Linked DNA regions of Homo sapiens: region 2 is linked to region 1. Evidence: fine-mapped expression QTL. A gene starts in region 1. The other region holds a variant in brackets. All regions are shown on one strand. Distances are between the middles of the regions.

Region 1 (5,373 bases):
CCTGCCTCAGCCTCCAGAGTAGCTGGGATTACAGGCGCACACACCATGCCCAGCTAATTTTTGTATTTTTAATAAAGACGGGGTTTCACCATGTTGGCCAGGCTGGTCTTGAATACCTGACCTCATGATCCGCCTGCCTGGGCCTCCCAAAGTGCTAGGATTACAGGTGGGAGTCACCAGGCCTGGCCTGGCTAATTTTTGTGTTTTTAGTAGAGATGGGGTTTCACCATGTTGGCCAAGCTGGTCTTGAACTCCTGGCCTCAGGTGATCCACCCGCCTCAGCCTCCTAAAGTGCTGGGATTACAGGCATGACCCACTGTGCCTGGCCAAATTTTTGTATTTTTTATAGAGACAGGATCTCGCCATGTTGCCCAGGCTGGTCTCAAACTCCTGGGTTCAAGCAATCCTCCCACCTTGGCCTACCGAAGTGTTGGGATTACAGGCGTGAGCAATGGTGCCTGGCCCAGGTCCATCTGATTTCAAAGCCCACACTCCATCCCCACCCCAGCAGCCTCATTGCCCCCAAACCTCACAGGCCAGAAGGGCTGCTGCTGGCCCTACTAGTGACTCTGGAGAGATATGGGGCAGCCTGAGGGGCAGCAGGACAGAGTGTTCTCAGGTATCCAATGTGGAATTAAGGTATAAGTAACTGCAAGACAGTCCTTGAGGGACTTGATAAACATTAATTCAAGTGGCTTCATAGCAATCCTGCCGAAAACACCAACATCCCCACTTTACAGAAAAGGAAACTGAGGCTGACGGAGGTTCAGCAACTCATCCAGGGTCACTGAGTGAGGGGCAGCAGGCTGACTCTGAGACCCATGCTCCTTTTACAGCCTCTGGGTGTTTGCCACACAAATGGTTTTACCACCAATCCATTCTGTCCCTTCCCCAATCTTGATATTTTTATCTGGAAAACAAAGGGCTCATAAAAGATGATCTTCCCAGAGCCCTTTGAGCCTCAACATTATGTGGGTCACATGCAGAAATTGCTTGAAACATAGGCTAGGGGTTAAGGAGCAACACTTACTGCATGTTCGTCAAGTGCTAGACACTTCACAACCACGGAATCTTTTTTTTTTGTAGACGGAGTCTCGCTCTGTCACCCGGGTTGGAGTGCAGTAGCGTGATCTCGGCTCACTGCAACCTCTGTCTCCCGGGTTCAATTGATTCTCCTGCCTCAGCTTCCTAGTAGCTGGGATTACAGGGGTGAGCCATCACACCCAGCTAATTGTATTTTTAGTAGAGACACGTTTTCACCAACATGGTGAAATTTTTGTACTTTTTTTTTTTTTTTTTTTTTTTTGAGACAGAGTCTCACTCTTGTCGCCCAGGCTGGAGTGCAGTGGCAGGATCTCGGCTCACTGCAAGCTCCGCCTCCTGGGTTCACGCCATTCTCCTGCCTCAGCCTCCTGAGTAGCTGGGACTACAGGCGCCTGCCACCGCGCCCAGCTAATTTTTTGTATTTTTAGTAGAGATGGGGTTTCACCGTGTTAGCCAGGATGGTCTCGATCTCCTGACCTCGTGATCCACCGCCTCGGCCTCCCAAAGTGCTGGGATTACAGGCGTGAGCCACCGCGCCCGGCCATTTTTGTACTTTTTATAGAGACAGGATCTCGCCGTGTTGCCAAGCTGGTCTTGAACTGCTGACCTCAAGTGATCTGCCTGCCTCGGCCTCCCAAAGTGCTGGGATTACAGGCATGAGCCACCATACCCGACCAACCACAGCATCTTTAATCCTCAACAACCCTATGAGATACATCCTGATTACTCCCATTTTACAGATGAGGAACCCGAGGCTTAAAGAGTCCTGAGGTCACCCCACCTACAAAGTCTGAGTTAGATCTGTTAGTGCCAGGCAAACTCTAGGCTTTTCCCACGGTGTCAGCTTTATCCCTAATTATTGGGCAGTCTAGGTGGGGCGCTTATGCCACTCCTCTTTCCCAGCTGTCCAAAAGCCCCACTGCTCTGTGCTGTAACATCTCATGGCAGGCACTATCAGAACTTTGCAGCTTCATTCCTGGGCTGCAGGGCAGGAGGGATGGTTGCTTCCTTTTCACAGGTTGGGGGAGGGGGAACAGGTGGCCTCACTTCTTTGGTAAATATTCCTTGACCATACACAGTCCTGAGCCCTCTGAGGGTGGGAGGCTGGGGAAACAGAGAAAAATGAGATCATGGTCTAGTGAGAGAGACAGACAAGCACCAAGTCATAACTGTGCAGGGTCATATATGCAGAGATGGGGGAAGTACAGGGCTGTGGGGACCAAGGAGTGAGGGGCTGCCCAGGGCCAGTCAGGGAGGCCAAGCCCTAGCTCAGCCCAGAGCAGGGCCCAAACAAAAGCCCAGGCTGAGAGCACATGGCCCAGCCAGACTCCCACTCCCAGGAGGCCACCAGTTGGGTGCAAAGTGCATGGCGCATTGGCAGGCCTGGGTCCCAGACCTGGTGCTGCCACGGCACAGCAGGGAGGGTGACCTTGGACAACTCCCATTCCCTCTCAGGTCCGTTTCCCCACCTGTACAGTTCGAGGTGGAGGAACAAAGGGTCTGTGCAGCCATGGCCCCTGGGGATCCCCCACTGCTCCCCTGCCATCATCTCTTTCCCACAGAACTTCCCGACGGAGGAGCTGACTACCAGAAGCCCCCAGTGGGTGTTAAATCACAAGCTACGCCTGGGAATGGGCCACTCCTCCTGTCTTCTGCCCTCTCCCACTCTCCAGGGCCCAGTACCTGCCCTTCTCACCATCTTTCATCAGGTCCCCATCACAGCCCGGTCCCAACCAGGACAAAGACCCTACCCATCCCTTTCTCACCTCCCCCATTCTTTGCCCAGACCCCTCCCTAGGCCTTGATCCTGCCCCGCCTCTAACCCCCAGATTCCAAGCGAGGAGTCTCAGCCCCTCCCCCACGACCCAGTCCCTGGCCCCCGCGCCTGCACCCCACCCCGCGCGCGTCTATCCCTGCCTGGCCGGGCTCTCACCGCGCCGCAGCTGCAGACGCAACGTCCCCAGCGCGAGGCCCCGGGCCCCCCAGCAGCCGCCGCGCCGTCACAGAGATGCTGCACAGCCGCGGAGCCATGTTGGAGCCGCAAAGGTTGCAGGAAGGCCCCGCCCCCAAGCCCTGGTGGCGGAGGCGGGGCGCGAATAAACTCCACCCCTCCGGCTCGCCCGCCCCCTCACTCACCCGGTCAGGTGGGCGTTTCCTGTGGGCGTCTCCAACTCCGCAGGTGCTGGACGGAAGTCAGGGTTCTAATCCTCTGCGCGCTCTGCGACCTTGGCAAGCCCTTTGCCCACTCTGGGCCTCAGGATCCACCTCGGTAAAATGGGAGCGTGGAACAATAATACCAAGGGTTCTTTTTTTTTTTTTTTTTTTTTTTGAGACGGAGTCTCGCTCTGTCGCCCAGGCTGGAGCGCAGTGGCGCGATCTCGGCCCACTGCAAGCTCCGCCTCCTGGGTTCACGCCATTCTCCTGCCTCAGCCTCCCGAGTAGCTGGAACTACAGGCGTCTGCCACCACGCCCAGCTAATTTTTTGTATTTTTAGTAGAAACGGGGTTTCACCGTGTTAGCCAGGATGGTCTCGATCTCCTGACCTCGTGATCTGCCTGCCTCGTGCTCCCAAAGTGCTGGGATTACAGGCGTGAGCCACCATGCCCAGCCTACCAAGGGTTCTTAACAAGGCTGTCCGGGATGTGCAGCAGAGGGTCAGTGTAACCACCCCATGGGTTCATTTTGCCCGTTTCCCAGACAGCGGATTTATCAAGACAGAGGAATTGCAATAAGAGTTTAATTCATGCAGAGCCGGCTGAATGGGAGACCGGAGTTTTATTATTACTCAAATCAGTCTCCCTGAAAATTCGGAGACTGGGTTTTATTAAGGATAATTTGGTGGGTAGGGGCCAGAGAGTGGAGAGTGCTGATTGGTCAGGTCGGAGATGCAATCATAGGGAGTGGAAGCCGTCCTCTTGTGCTGAGTGGATCTCTGGGTGGGGGCCACAAAACCGGATGATCCGGTTTCTTAATCTGTGTATCGCCAGCGGATCCATTGAGTGCAGGATCGGAAAAATATCTTGAGCACCAATCTTAGGTTTTACAGTAGTGATGTTATCCCTAGGAGCAACTGGGGAGGTTTAGAATCTGTGGCCACTACCTGCATGACTCCTAAACCGTAATTTCTAATCTCGTGGCTAATTTGTTAGTCTTACAAAAGCAGTCTGGTCCCCAGGCAAGAAAGGGGTTTATTTTGGGAGAGGGCTGTTATCTTTGTTTCAAAGTTGAACTATAAATTTGCTGCCGGGCATGGTGGCTCATGCCTGTAATCCCAGCATTTTGGGAGGCAAAGGTGGATCAGAAGTTTAGGTCAAGAGTTCAAGACCAGCCTGGCCAACAGGGTGAAACCCCGTCTCTACTAAAAATACAAAAAAATTAGCCAGGCATGGTGGCGGGCACCTGTAATCCCAGTTACTCGGGAGGCTGAGGCAGGAGAATCTCTTGAACCCTGGAGGCAGAGGTTGCAGTGAGCCGAGATCGCGCCACTGCACTCCAGCCTGGGCAACAAGAGCGAAACTCCGTCTCAAAAAACAAACAAAAAGACTGTAAGTTTGGCCTATGCCCAGGAATGAATATGGACAGTTTGGGGGTTAGAAGCAAAATGGAGTCGGTTAGGTCAGATCACTTTCACTGTCATAATTTTCTCACTGTTAAAATTTCTGCAAAGGGGTTGCATCAGTAAGCCCCCTGAAATTGTATACAACGTTACGTGCTCCTCTGTGGTGCATTCTCTGGGGAAAGGCATTCACATGCCAGGTTTATCACCATCAAAGAAACAAACTTCCTTACAAGTGAAGACAGGGGCAAGGCTGTCAGCTGCAGACACTTTATCTCCACCATCTCCTTTCCCCTTTTCATCCCCCTTTGACTTCTCTGCCTGAAAATCCTGGGGCCTCTTTCTGCCCTGCCCAGCTCTTTTGCCCGCCCTCTAAACTAATCCCTTCTCAGCCCACAATCCCCCAGATCACAGACATTGGCAGGGGTGGAGAGCCTGCAGACCCCACAGGGGGCAGGGGCTCTATCCACTTCCAAAGGGGCAGGGACAGCTCCCCAAAAGAATGTCCACCCACTGACTAGTGGTTGCCTCCTGTTATGCTTGGCATGGGGGGAGTGGAGGCCAGGCCATGATTGCACCACTGCGCTCCAGCCTGGGCAACAGAGCAAGACCCAGTCTCTATAAAAAAATAATAATAATTTTAAGATTAGGACCACGTGTGGTGGCTCATGCCTGTAATCCCAGCACTTTGGGAGGCCAAGGCAGGAGGATCTATGAAAATTCAAAAAATTAGCTGAGCATGGTAGCACACACCTGTAGTCCCAGCTACTCAG
Region 2 (5,373 bases), 36 kb before region 1:
AAACTGGTAATGTAAAGACCCCTGATAGGGAGAGAGACCTGCTTTTTACCAAGTGCAGAGCTCAAAACTCAAAAAGGTCAGAGAGACTTCTGAGGTTCTTTATGCAGCCTGAAATCACGGCTTGCAATTCTCCCACATTCACCCTTGCAATTTGCCCTTCTCCCAGATCCTACAGTTTTCTAAGCTCATCAGATTTCTTTTTAAAGAGAGACTTAGGCTGGGAGCGGTGGCTCACGCCTGTAATCCCAGCACTTTGGGAGGCCGAGGCGGGAGGACCACCTGAGGTCAGGAGTTCGAGAACAGCCTGGCCAACATGGCAAAACCCCGTCTCTACTAAAAATACAAAAATTAGCTGGATGTGGAGGTGGGCGCCTGCAATCCCAGCTACTCAGAAGGCTGAGGCAGGAGAATTGCTTGAACCCGGGAGGTGGAGGTTGCAGTGAGCTGAGATTGCGCCACTGCACTCCAGCCTGGGTGACAGGGCAAGACTCCGTCTCAAAAAAAAAAAAGAAACAGACTTACAGTGAGCTACATGGGAAAAAGCAGTTACCGAAAGACCACATGTGCCAAAGCCCTGTCCTCCCAAACTCACTTAAACTCCAAACATTTGGTGATCTCCTTCTGTAGGTGCATCACCTCATACAACAGGTTCTGGAGCTGCAGATGATAGGCATCTACTTTCTGCTTAGCCTGAAAGGAAAATACGATCAGAAGTGAGCAGGGCAAGTCAGGATGGAGCAGAGGAGAGGGTCAGCAAACTAAGAGAAGGTGTAAAGGGAATAAAGAAGGGGATGGGGCTGGGTGCAGTGGCTCACGCCTGTAATCCCAGCACTTTGGGAGGCCGAGGCGAGTGGATCACCTGAGCTCAGGAGTTCAAGACAAGCCTGGCCAACAAGGTGAAACCCCATCTCTACTAAAAAATACAAAAATTAGCCAGGCATGGTGGTGGGAGGTGCCTGTAATCCCAGCTACTTAGGAGGCTGAGGCAGGAGAATCGCTTGAAGCTGGGAGGCAGAGGATGTGGTGAGCTGAGATCGTGCCACTGCACTCTAGCCTGGGGGACAGAACGAGACTCTGTCTCAAAAAAAAAAAAAAAAAAAAAAAAAGAAGGGGATGGGGAGGAGGAAGGAGGAAGGTTAAAATTAAACCTTTTAACTACTACCTCGTGGGTCTGATCTCTTCCTTTCTTCAACCTGATGTGGGCTAATCGGTTAAGCTTCTTTAGAGTCATGAAATGCACACAGCTCTGGATCCTCCGTTCTTCTATTTCTATTGCCTGTGGGCAAAGAAAACAGTAAAGCCCACTGACGACAGGGCTAGCTCAGCTTCCTTCAGTCCTTCACCACTGACCCATCCTCATCTGGGGCCAAAAACGGCACCGGAGGGAGCTCAGAACCATGAGAAGGGTCATGAAGAAAATAAGAGGATGATTGTATAAGGAAAATGATTAAGAATCTCGGGCAAAAAAAAGTAATTTCTGCTTGGACTAGAGTAACAGGAATTGAAGATGGAATAAGGGCAGCAAAGGCACAATCTATCTCTACAGATCCTACACAGAGATCCCAGCAATAGTAACATCTTGTCATAAAATTTGACCTCTATAAATAACATTACAGGATAACTTAAATGGAAAATAACAGAATTATAGCCATAAAGCTTGGCTAGAATAGATTGAATGCAATAATTCTAACAAAACTTGTCAGCATAAGCACAAATACGTGAGATTCCTGGGGGAAAAAATGGATTTTAAAAAACTTATCTATCGAGTTTTTAGTCACATTGTTTAATTTCTCTGCCCCTAAAACCTCATTTATTCATTTACTATTAATGATAATTTCATTTTTGGTATCTACAATTTACTTGTACACATCCATCTTTGTATCAAGCAAATGTATAAGTACCATCATTTCTCAACACCTAGCAAAATGCCTGGCACTTAATAAATATTAATTGGATGAATGATCAAATTAGTAGGGAAAAAATTAATTATCCTGTACTTTCATTCCTGTAATTGGTGACTGAATGGTGATAAGAAGTTCCAATAAATTCACAGGTTTTGGGAGCCCTCAGGCTCCAATCACCTGATCATGGCTAGGACAGAAGATCAAGATCAGGAAGGGCCCTGGTAGGTGCAAAAACAGCCTCATCTATGTAAACCCACCAGGTTCACGGCCACCTGGTCCCACTCCTTACCACATCCTTGCCACCCCTGCTCTTCAGGTCTTGGATCTCAGCCATCAGCCTCTGTAGCTCCTGGCAGGTGTACTTGTATAACTCATAGTCTCTGCCAGGGTCCCGCAGATCCACCTCGGCCTCCTCACTGTAGTATTTACCTTCCTGTAGAGGTAAGGATAAAGGCTCTGTGTGCATGGGGTAAAAGTCTCCCTGCTGGGATCAGGGACACTTGGCTGACATCTCCTTTTAGATAAAAACAGTAACAATGAAGCCTCAGTCAGGTCTCTAAAAGATCTGGTCCTTAAATTAAATGCTTTTCTTCTCTTCAAAATAGAAACCTCTTTTGCTTTCTGATTGCAGAGTAATGCATGCCTGGTATCAAAGATTCAGAATATACAGAGGAGTATCAAAAAGAAAATGGAAAAATTGCCTATAATTTCGCCTCTCAGTCCGAAACTGAGTGAAGATTGTGGATAAATAAACATTTTATTTGTAAACAAAACGGGATCATACTGTCCGTGCTGTTAAGTGCAACTTCCCATCTGCATTAGTCCATTTTCAC[G/A]CTGCCAATAAAGACACACCTGAAACTGGGAACAAAAAGAGGTTTAATTGGACTTACAGTCCCACATAGCTGGGGAGGCCTCAGAATCATGGCGAGAGGTGAAAGGCACTTCTTATGTGGCGGCGGCAAGAGAAAAATGAGGAGGAAGCAAAAGCAGAAACCCCTTATAAACCCATCAGATGTCGTGAGACTTATTCACTATCATGAGAATAGCACGGGAAAGACTGGCCCCCATGATGCAATTACCTCCCTCTGGGTCCCTCCCACAACATGTGGCAATTCTGGGAAATACAATTCAAGTTGAGATTTAAATCCCAAACCATATCATTCCGCCCCTGGCCCCTCCGAATCTCATGTCCTCACATTTCAAAACCAATCATGCCTTCCCAACAGTCGCCCAAAGTCTTAACTCATTTCAGCATTAACCCAAAAGTCCATAGTCCAAAATCTCATCTGAGACAAGGCAAGCCCCTTCCGCCTATGAGCCTGTAAAATCAAAAGCAAGCTAGTTACTTCGTAGATACAGTGGGGGTAAATATAGCCATTCCAAATGGGAGAAATTGGCCAAAACAAAGGCGTTACAGGGCCCATGCAAGACCAAAATCCAGTAGGGCAGTGAAATTTTAAAGCTCCAAAATTATCTCCTTTGACTCCAGGTCTCACATCCAGGTCAAGCTGATGCAAAAGGTGGCTTCCCATGGTCTTGGGCAGCTCCACCCCTGTGGCTTTGCAGGGTACAGTCTCCCTCCCTCCTGGCTGCTTTCATGGGCTGGCATTGAGTGTCTGCAGCTTTTTCAGGTGCATGGTGCAAGCCGTTCGTGGATCTACCATTCTAGGGTCTGAAGGGACGGTGGCCCTCTTCTCACAGCTCTACTAGGCAGTGCCTCAGTAGGGACTGTGTGGGGGCTCTGACCCCACATTTCCCTTCCACACTGCCCTAGCAGGGGTTCTCCATGAGCGCGCCAGCAGCAAACTTTTGCCTGGGCATCCAGGTGTTTCCGTACATCTTCTGAAATCCAGGCGGAGGTTCCCAAACCTCAATTCTTGACTTCTGTGCACCCACAGGCTTAACACCACTTGGAAGCTGCCAAAGCTTGGGGCTTCCACCCTCTGAGCCACAGGCCAAGCTCTAGATTGGCCCCTTTCAGCCATGCCTGGACTGGCTGGGACACAGGGCACCAAGTCCCTAGGCTGCATATAGCACAGGGACCCTGGGCCTGGCCCAGAAAACCACTTTTTCCTCCTGGGCCTCTGGGCCTGTGAGGGAAGGGGCTGCCGTGAGGTCTCTGACATGGCCTGGAGACGCTTTCCCCATGGTGTTAATCCCCCACGGGGATTAACATTAGGCTCCTTGCTACTTATGCAAATTTCTGCAACCAACTTGAATTTCTCCGCAAAAAATGGGTTTTTCTTTCCTTTTTTTATTTTTTATTTTTATTTTTTGAGACAGAGTCTCGGTCTTGTCGCCCAGGCTGGAGTGCAGTGGCATGATCTCAGTTCACTGCAACCTCTGCCTCCCAGGTTCAGGCAATTCTCCTGCCTCAGGCTTGGAGATTACAGTGGGTAGCTGGGATTACAGGCACCTGCCACCAGGCCCGGCTAATTTCTGTATTTTTAGTAGAGATGGGGTTTCACCATGTTGCCCAGGCTGGTCTCGAACTTCTGACCTCAAGTGATCCACCCAGCTCGGCCTCCCAAAGTGCTGGGATTACAAGCGTGAGCCACCGTGCCCAGCCGGGTTTTTCTTTTCTACTGTGTCATCAGGCTACAAATTTTCCAAACTTTTATGCTCTGTTTTCCTTTTAAAATGGAATGCTTTTAACAGTACCCAAGTCACTTCTTTTTTTTTTTTTTGAGACAAGGTCTTGCTCTTGTTGCTCAGGCTGGAGTGCAATGGCGCAATCTCAGCTCACTGCAACTTCTGCCTCCCGGGTTCAAGCGATTCTCCTGCCTCAGCCTCCCAAGTAGCTGGGATTACAGGGGCCCACCACCATGTCTGGCTAATTTTTATTGTATTTTTAGTAGAGATAGGGTTTTGCCATGTTGGCCAGGCTGGTCTCAAACTCCTGACCTCAAGTGGTTCACCTGCCTCGGCCTCCCAAAGTGCTAGGATTATAGGCGTGAGCCACTGCACATGGCCCTGTCACCTTTTGAATGGTTTGCTACTTAGAAATTTCCTCCACCAGATACCCTAAATCCTCTCTCTCAAGTTCAAAGTTCCACAAATCTCTAAGGCAGGGGCAAATGTTTTCAGTCTCTTTGCTAAAACACAAGAGTCACCTTTGCTGCAGTTTCCAATAAGTTCCTCATCTCCATCTGAGACCACCTCAGGCTGGACCTTATTGTTCATATCATTATCAACTTTTTTTTTTTTCTTTGAGATGGAGTCTCACTCTGTCACCCAGGCTGGAGTGCAGTGGCATGATCTTGGCTCACTGCAACCTCTGCCTCCTGGGTTCAAGCAATTCTCTGCCTCAGCCTCCCGAGTAGCTGGGATTACAGGCTACCGCCACCACGCCTGGCTAATTTGTTCGTATGTTTAGTAGAGACAGGGTTTCACCATCTTAGCCAGGCTGGTCTTTAACTCCTGACCTCGTGATCCACCTGCCTCAGACTCCCAAAGTGCTGGGATTACA

Evidence for each region. PIP is the estimated chance that this variant, and not a neighbour inherited with it, causes the effect.
Region 2: its variant is the best candidate, but not a certain one, in a credible set for the expression of NIPSNAP1 in whole blood (INTERVAL, PIP 0.51).

What each region holds. Positions count from the first base shown.
Region 1 is chr22:29,578,008-29,583,380 of GRCh38, forward strand. NIPSNAP1 (nipsnap homolog 1) reads right to left here and starts at 3,106. Exons shown (of 10, transcript NM_003634.4): 1 at 2,978-3,106. The coding sequence starts at 3,075. RefSeq lists an enhancer at 2,267-2,879 and a silencer at 2,863-2,912.
Region 2 is chr22:29,542,267-29,547,639 of GRCh38, forward strand. It overlaps THOC5 (THO complex subunit 5), which reads right to left. Exons shown (of 20, transcript NM_003678.5): 3 at 2,194-2,337; 4 at 1,163-1,276; 5 at 593-690. Among named protein-coding and RNA genes, the nearest start is that of THOC5, 8.8 kb to the right of the region's middle. The variant G/A (reference allele first, on the strand shown) is at 2,738.